3 separate regions of the Homo sapiens genome follow, and regions 1 and 2 are each linked to region 3. The links come from fine-mapping of genetic effects on gene expression. Tissue or cell type: whole blood. Region 3 holds a variant in brackets; each other region holds the start of a gene. All regions are shown on one strand. Distances are from middle to middle.

The links.
Region 1: it holds the start of LINC02908, and the variant in region 3 is fine-mapped to the expression of LINC02908 in whole blood (TOPMed, PIP above 0.99).
Region 2: it holds the start of FUT7, and the variant in region 3 is fine-mapped to the expression of FUT7 in whole blood (TOPMed, PIP above 0.99).

What each region holds. Positions count from the first base shown.
Region 1 is chr9:137,025,799-137,028,588 of GRCh38, forward strand. It overlaps LINC02908 (long intergenic non-protein coding RNA 2908), which reads left to right and starts at 1,666. Exons shown (of 3, transcript NR_171031.1): 1 at 1,666-2,113. It overlaps ABCA2 (ATP binding cassette subfamily A member 2), which reads right to left and starts at 2,439. Exons shown (of 49, transcript NM_001606.5): 1 at 2,277-2,439. The coding sequence starts at 2,342. RefSeq lists a silencer at 2,517-2,696 and an enhancer at 2,580-2,790.
Region 2 is chr9:137,030,453-137,033,242 of GRCh38, forward strand. It overlaps FUT7 (fucosyltransferase 7), which reads right to left and starts at 1,636. Exons shown (of 2, transcript NM_004479.4): 1 at 1,527-1,636; 2 at 1-1,273. The coding sequence starts at 1,539. The coding sequence ends at 258. LINC02908 (long intergenic non-protein coding RNA 2908) reads left to right here. Exons shown (of 3, transcript NR_171031.1): 2 at 1,546-2,779. RefSeq lists an enhancer at 1,671-1,780.
Region 3 is chr9:137,081,069-137,083,732 of GRCh38, forward strand. It overlaps UAP1L1 (UDP-N-acetylglucosamine pyrophosphorylase 1 like 1), which reads left to right. Exons shown (of 9, transcript NM_207309.3): 8 at 930-996; 9 at 1,569-2,664. The coding sequence ends at 1,661. Among named protein-coding and RNA genes, the nearest start is that of MAN1B1-DT, 4.4 kb to the right of the region's middle. RefSeq lists an enhancer at 2,344-2,664 and a silencer at 2,451-2,664. The variant T/G (reference allele first, on the strand shown) is at 1,367.

The DNA of each region.
Region 1 (2,790 bases), 55 kb before region 3:
TATAGCAACGGCCTCGCACGAGCTACTGGGAGGAGGAGGAGAGTCCTGGCTGGCAGGCGGCGGGCGCCACAGCAGCATCTGGTTACAGGCGGCAGCACAGGTCTAGCACGCCCTGGGTGCCCCACACAGGTGCCTCCAGGTGGCCCAACCTCCGTCCCTCGAGACCAGCCCAGTGCCTTCACATCGCCTGGAGGCCTAGATGCCTTCTCTGGGCATGACCCCTCCCTGTAGCTCCCGCCTACTGTGTCGGGGGGAGAACAGGTGAGACCCGAGGGTGGCGCTGCCATCTGCCATCCCAGTGACTTCATGACAGTGACCCTGTCCCTGCACCAAGAGCAGCCTGTAGCCCAAGGGTAGACCCAAGTCCAGCTAACTAAGAGGAGATAGGCCACACTCACAGACAGGGAAACTGAGGCAAAGAGCTTGGAGGAGCCTGCTAGCAGCACAGAGGTCCTTGGCACCCACCCTCCAGACCCTGAGCTCTGCCCAGGGTGGAGCTCTGCCCAGGGTGCACCCCTGCCCCAGCAGGGCGCATGGCACACAGGGCAAACCTCTGTCATCCAAGCTTGGCCCCAAGAGTCCAGCTCTGATGTCCAAGATCCTTCCCAGGAAAGTGGGGACCCAGCAGGAGTGTGCCCAGTGTCCAGCCAGCCCCAGCCCCACATCACAAGCCTGGCAAGGACTCAGCCTCCCTGGGGGAAACAGTTCCCCACCTGCTCCAGCCATGGGCTAAGGACCTCCACTGTGGCCCAGTGGGCCTCTGGGAGCCCTGTAGGGTGGGGACCCAAAAAGGTCCTGGGGGGCAGCCCAAACCAGCAGCTGGGAGTCACTCTTGCGGTCAGGACAGTGCACACCTCCCACCTGCTTGCCAGCTGCCCTCATAGGCCACACTCCCTTCCCTGAGCATTGTCCCCACTGGAACAGGGGCCACCATTCCAGCCTCTGCTCCCAAGCCCAGTGGGGACCTTCCTGACAACCACCCCCGGGGACTAATACTAATGCATGCCACATGCCACATCCCTGTTCCCTTGGCCCTGCTCTGCTGTCCCCAGTGACTCAATGCCAGGGGCTGCAGGCCTGATCCATGGGACCCCACTCAGCCAGCTCCAGGTGCCTGGCCAGGGCATGTACCTAACCCAGGCTCCCCGCCAAGGCCAGGTGCCCAGGGGAATTCTGCCAGCCATGGTGATGATGGCCACCCCAGCTGACTGCAGCCTGGGTTTCCTGCAGTGCATGTTGAAAGATAAACAGGCACGGACTGGTGCAGCCCAAGGGGTCCCGCCCGGGCCCTGGCTGGGCAAGAGGATGTCTGCCTTAGGCCCCCACCTGCTCTGAGCCCTGGCCTGGACAATCCCAAGGGCCTTCAGAAACCTAAGCTGGTCCAGGCCTGTGGCCTGGGAGGTGTCCCTTCCCTTCCCAGGCTGGAGCCAAGCTGGCCAGCTGGGGGTATGGCAGGACACCCATATCCCCAAGCCCCTCGCTCCACGAAGGACTTCTGTCCCTGACAGCCATGTGTCCTGCACCCTCAGGTCCACTGGCTGCCCAGGCAGTGCTGGGAAAGCCGGGGTTCACAGCTCCAAACAGTAGACCCAGCCCCCAGAGCAGGTGGGGGGACCAGGAGGCAACAGAGTGGATCAGGCTCGGGGAGAACTGACCCCAAAGGACAAATGGGTGCAGAGATTCAGGCTGGCCAAGGCTGGCACAAGGACATTCCCAGTGGCGAGAGCATGAGCAAGGGTCACGGATGTGCCAGGAGGGGAGGCGGAGAGATGCCTGGGACCAACCTCTATGGCAGGCCGCGGCCCAAGGGCAGGGGAGGGGTGGACGGAGGGAAGGGACAGGGTCTCCTCCGGGACCCCAGGGAGGCTGGGCCCAAGGACCATGGAGCCTCGCAGCTGAATGGAGCCCCCCAGGCCTGCCTTCTGTCCTGGGAACCAGGGCCTCCCTCGAGCCAGAGTCCTGAGCGCCGCTTGCCCCCCGCCCACAGCGGCCCCAGCGAGCGCGCTGCAGAGGGCGCGGGTGCCGTGACTCAGCCGAGCACCGCGATGTCAGCGGACGCGGGACCGGACTGGACACGACCGAGCCACCTCCCCGGAGGCCGCAGCGCCGGCAGGCGAGGGCAGGGCCCGGCGGGGAGGGGGCTCGGGCCCGCGCCGCCCCCAGCGCCCGCCGGGGTCTGCGCGCGCCCGGCCGTCCGCACGTGCGCGCGGGGAGCGCGCCTCTGGCCGCGGTGCGCGCGGCCTCGGGCTGAGGGCGGGCGCGTGGGGTGGGCTCACCGGGCTCCGGCGTTTGAGCGTCACGTTCTTCCAGAGCAGCAGCTGCAGCTGGTGCAGGAAGCCCATGGCGGGGCCACGCTCCGCCGCCTCAGCGCCGCGGCCCGCTCCTCTGCGCGCCCCGCCGGGCCCCGCAGCCCGCCGCGCCGCTGGGCATCGCCCGCGCGGGGGCGGGGCGCTCGGGCGTCCGGGACCCGATCCGCGCTGGCTCCGCCCCGGCGGCCGCGGCGACAGCGACTCTGCCCGCGCCCCGCCCGCCCCCGCTTAAAGGCGCCGCGCTCCGTCCGCGCCCGCCAGGAGGCGCCCGCCGCCCGCGCCGCGCCCGGGACCGACCCGGGCCCGAGACCCTGCGCGCGCCGCCGCCGGGAAGCCTCCGGGCCGCCCCTCGCCGGGCGTCACGCGACGCGCCCACATCGAATCCGAGACCCCGGCTTAGCCTTCGTAGGCCGGGGGACCCTCGGGCGCTGCGCTCTTCTCCCAGAGGCATCCGGCTGCGCCCACCGCGCTGGCGACTCTG
Region 2 (2,790 bases), 51 kb before region 3:
CAAGATTTGTTCAGGGTGGGGAGGGTCCTCGGCAGCCTTTCCCCTCCCGTCTGCCGCAGCAGGCACCCGTTACCTCCCTCCCACTCTCACCTCCTCTGCATGCTCCAGTGCCCACCTGCACCCCCCACCCCTGCTTCCTGACCTCTGTGCCCAGCCTCCCGTTAGCCCGCTGCTTGCCGGTAAGGGCCGGATGCCTGGTGGTTTGATTTCGACACCCAGCCCTTCCACCCACACCCACCTCCCCCGGCCAGCGGATCTCAGGCCTGAAACCAACCCTCAAGGTCCTCATAGACTTGGCTGCGGGGTAGGTGTGGGTAGCGGTCACAGATGGCACAGAAACGTTCCCGCCAGTCGGTGAACAGTCGCACGCGGAGCCTGTCACGCCAGGCAAAGAAGCGTTGGTATCGGCTCTCATTCATGCCAGTGAGGAAAGCCGCCAGCTCTCGGGCTGAGCCAAAGTCATCCACATGCACGAAGGCGTCAGCCGGCACGAAGGCCTCATAGGTGGCCCGTGGGGGCCCCAGCACCACTGGCACAGTGCCAGCCACCAGTGCGTTGCGCCAGAATTTCTCCGTAATGTAGTCGCGGTGCTGAGAGTTCTCAAAGGACAGGTAGAAGCGGTACTGGGCCACGGTGGGCACCAGGCAGCTGGCGCACAGTGGCCGTCCATTGGCACGGCCAAAGACATCCACCCGCAGATGAGGCGCCAGCTGCCGGTACAGCCTGGCACGCAGCTGCCGCTCCTGGAAGTTGCTGACCACCCAGGCGGCCACCCTGCTCTTGGCTGGCAGCGGTGGCGAGGGCCCCCAGTGGGGCTCCAGGCGGCCATAGGGCACAAAGATGTCCGAGTCGCGCCGGTAGCTCAGCACCCAGTTGAAGATGCCTCGGAGGTGGCTGAGGCCGTGGGTGTGGCTAGGAGACTCCATGGAGGCCCACACCCAGGGCTGCCCTCGCGGCCGCTGGGCCAGGGGCAGGTGGGACCGCCGGGTCTGCAGCTCGCGGTGGTGGAAGACCACGGCGTCGGCGCTGGCCAGCAGGCTTCGGTTGGCACTCAGGTGGCAGCGGGCGATGCCGTAGCGGGTGCAGGTGTCGCTGGGCAGCTCTGGGGGCTGGTCAGTGAAGGGCCAGTGCCAGACAAGGATGGTGATCGTGGGCTGGGGTGCCGGGGTACCCCGAGGGGCTGACCCCAGCAGCCACAGGAGCCAGAGGGCAGCGAGCAGAGCCACCCCGGCCAGGACCCCCAAGCCTCGCAGCCTCCGGGTGGGGCCGTGCCCTGCAGCAGCACGAGGGAGGGGAGGCTCTGTCACTTGGGCTCAGGGACATCCACACGCCCCACTCAGCGCCAACCCCGTCCTCCCCTCCCATGGGCTCAGGGACACCCACATGCCCCACTCAGCGCCACCCCCGTCCTCCCCTCCCATGGGCTCAGGGACACCGACATGCCCCACTCAGCGCCACCCCCGTCCTCCCCTCCCAGGTTGCCTAGCTGTCCCCAGCTTGGGCCTCCCCGAGGGCCAGACACTCACCAGCATTATTCATCCACAGTCTCCCAGGATCAGTCAGCCAAGAGACCCGAGATTCTCAAATCACGGCAGCCGCCAGAGGTGCCCCTGAAATCACAGCTACGCCCTAGCTCAGCCCCGCCTGGAACTGTGCTCCTTTTATCTCTGCCCAAGGTGAGGGAACTCAGGGGACCTTCCTGCTCCTGCCCCGCCCCTGCCCCCACAACCTTTGGCATCAACCACTGTCCCCACCCCCATCTCGGGGACTTGCTAGTCCTGGGGCTGCTGGGAGGGGTACAGCCACAAGAGGGATGCCAAGCCAGGGCAATATGACGCCCCCACAGCCCACCCCACTGGTCTCCAGAGAGGCCCAGAGATGTCCAGCTGGGCAGGCAGAGGACAGAGAGGCTCGGGCAGGCTTGGCCCAGGGCAGAGAAGGCCCAGGTGCAGGCACCCTGAGCACAGATGGCCCCCCAGCCCCCACCCAGCTACCCAGGCCTGGGCGCTGCAGACAGCGAGTGCACTTCCCCAGAGGGCCAGGTGGCTCCTCCCACGGCAGTATCACCCACTTCCCCCAGCTCACCACCAGCTGGGCCCTGGTCTCCCAGGAGAATCTTACACATTGAAGATGTACTGTGCTCAGCTCTTTGCCGGAAGCTAAAGCTCCCAATTGGGCCATCCCACCCCACTCTGCCACCTCTGCCATCTAGGAACCCAGATGCCCGGAGAGGAGGTCTGTCCTGGGGCCCTTAGTGTCTTCCCACAGGAGCCCAGCGCGTGCCTGCAAGGGCCTGGTCCCGGAATGAACTGTGGATGGAGGCTGCTTTGTCCTTTTCCCCGTCCAGATCCATGCCCATAGACACCGCTGACTATAGGCTGGGCCCAGGGTCCCTTCCTCCAGCCTGCAGCAGAGGGGCTTTCCAGGCTGGAAAGGGAAGGAGTCCTTTTGTCCCTGACGCAAGCGGGTTGGGGGCCAGCACCCGCTCCAGGAAGAGGAAGGGATCCAGCCTGAAGTCCAGACTCCCCGCTCCCTCTAAGCCAGGGCCTGGAGCCTGGAGGCCAGGTTCCTTCTTCTACACCAGCCCACGTTGGGTGCCAGCCAGGCTGGGATGGCCCTGCGGGGTCACCCTGAGCCCCAGCCAACCAACACCCCACTCTCAGCCACAGTGGGAGGCCCCATCAGCCTCTTCACCCAACCACGTTGCCACTCTGCTGCACGGGACCTTGTGTGGTCCCAGGCGTGGCCAGACCCAGACGTCCTGGAGATCTCAATGCAGGTCAGGCTTGG
Region 3 (2,664 bases):
CCCGACCCTTCAAGTTGTGCTCAGTGCACTGAGGGAGGCAGGGGCTCCCCAACTCCCTCCCCAACTTATCCACAAGGTTTTGGTTTGTTTACAAAGGCATACTTAGATTTGGCTTTTATTTATTTATTTTTATTTTTATTTACTTTTTTGAGATGGAGTCTCGCTCTGTCGCCCAGGCTGTAGTGCAGTGGTGGGATCTCGGCTCGCTGCAAGCTCCACCCTCCCCCGGTTTCCGCCATTCTCCTGCCTCAGCCTCCTGAGTAGCTGGGACTACAGGCGCCCGCCACCACGCCCGGCTCATTTTTTTGTATTTTTTTTTTTTTTTAGTAGAGACAGGGTTTCACCGTGTTAGCCAGGATGGTCTCAAACTCCTGACCTGTGATCTGCCCGCCTCGGCCTCGCAAAGTGCTGGGATTACAGGCGTGAGCCACCTCACCCGGCTATTTTTTTATTTTTATTTTTCTTATTTGTATACATTTGTGGGGTGTGTGTGCAACTTTGGTCAGTCAGGTCAGGGCTTTTAGGGGATCCATCACCCAACCAACGTTGTTCCCATTTATTCACAGGCTTTGAAACTGAGCCCCGGGCATGAATTTAGAAAGTAGCAGGACAGTTTGATTTCAGGGCTGGGAAAGAAAAGGACGTTTGGCTTCCATCTCCCTGATTTTCTAGGGCCACCCCTAAATCTAGCTGCCTAGGCTCTGCGTGGGAGGCCTGTGGGGGTGCTTTCTACCCCAAATCAGGTCCTGTCACTTGGCAGTGGGATGTGTGCTCAGGGTTTGGGGTGTCCAGAGGAAGATGAGCTTGCTGAGACAGGAGCTGTGGGGAGCCAGGTGTGTAGAGCTCAGTCTCCTATCGGGACTGGGGGTGCTGGGGGAGGGCTCTGGGCAGGTGCTGCAAGGAGATATTGACAAGTGGACTTTCCCTAGCTTGCCCCCAAATGGAGACCCTCCGGCCATCTGTGAGATATCGCCCTTGGTGTCTTACTCTGGAGAGGTGAGAGCTGCCCATCCCTATCTGGGGCTTTTCTGGTGTCAGGTTTGGAATACCATCTGGGGAGAGGTGGCTGCTCGGGTGGAGACGGCACAGCTCTACCTCGGTTAACCAATGGGGTCGGTGGTTTAAATTTGCAGAAGACTTTCCAAGATATGGGTTGGGGTGGGGTGAGGCATCCAGAGGCCTTTGCAGGTCCTGGGAGGGCATGGGGATGAGACAGCCCAGGTCTGAGCCCAGTGTGGGGCCAGTCAGGCCTTGGTGGGGGCCTTGCGGAGGGAGGACACCGGCCTCTGCTACCTCCCTGACCTCGGCTGCCCTTGCCCCTTTCTCTGGTCAGGTCAGACCTGTGCGTGACAGGAGGGTCCCCTGC[T/G]GGCCTAGGGTCTTGAGTGTGGTCTTGGGTGGCCTTGCAGTGTGTGTCTGCTCCTGGCCCTGGAAGCCTTTCTGTCCCCACCCCTCCCTGACTCCAGGCAGACCTGGGATCGCACCTGGGGACTGTGGCTCTTGGTGTGGCCAGAGGGGCTGTGACCCGCCAAAAGGTGGGTACTTGGCCATTGTCCCCTGCTCGTCTCCAGGGTTTAGAAGTGTACCTGCAAGGCCGGGAGTTCCAGTCCCCGCTCATCCTGGATGAAGACCAGGCCAGGGAGCCGCAGCTGCAGGAGTCCTGACCCGCCCAGACTGTCCCCAGACTCCCCCGAGACCTGCCAGCCCCGGCATCCTGGAAGTCCCGACTCCCCCCAGACCTGCCAGCCCCGGCGTCCTGGAGCTGGGGGCTACAGCCCAGCCTGAGCTCTGGGTGGGAAAGCAGCCTGCCCCATGCTTCCAGCCTGCAGAACACAGAATGAAACATGCTGGTAGACTCCACGAGGGCAGGGCCTCTCCTGTCGCCTCTGGACACAAGTGGCGACAGCCTGCTGGGGGCTCTGTGGCTCCATTCCTGGCTGTGGGGTCTAGTCAAGAGGCAGAGGGACTTGGGACCTGGGAGAATGGGGCTGAGAGGAGGCTTCGGGTTGGGGCCCAAGGGAGGTGTGGTGTCATCTGGGGAGAACAGGAGGGCATGTCCCTTTGGGAGCCCGCCTTGTGGATCCACCACACCCCACCGAGCACTAGAAGCTGCATAAGCTACACAGGATGTGCTTCTGCAGCCTACAGATGCAGAACCAGAATGAGGGGGACAATTCCACCCACTCGAGGGCTGCCCCCTCTTCCTTAGCAGACGAACCAGTAATGGGGGCAAGGCTGGGGCATCCCAGCCCACACACCCTGGATGCCCAGCAAGGCCACAGAAAGAGCCTGATGTCCATGATCCAGGTGGCTCTGAGAAGCTTGGCCTGGACACCTGAGCCTGCGGCCGGTACTCCTGCCTTCTCCCCATCTATCCCCAAGGCCTCTGCCTCTCAGCCTCTTCCATGGTCGGTTTAGGCTGCTGAGTTTTCTGTGCTTCCCCAAGAACCAGTGGGATCAATGCCGGCGGCCTCTGTGATGGTTGCTGACTAATCCGGGATTTCATGAGTCAGAGGCACCACCCCTCACCCCAGCTGCCTGCTGCTTCTGACGGATCTTGGTGCTCAGGCTGCCTGGCTCTCCGAGTGAGGACGCAGCCTCCATATTTGGTGCACTCAGGCATGGCTGGGACAAGCCAGCTGCCCCAGGGTTCTTCCCCTGGTGATT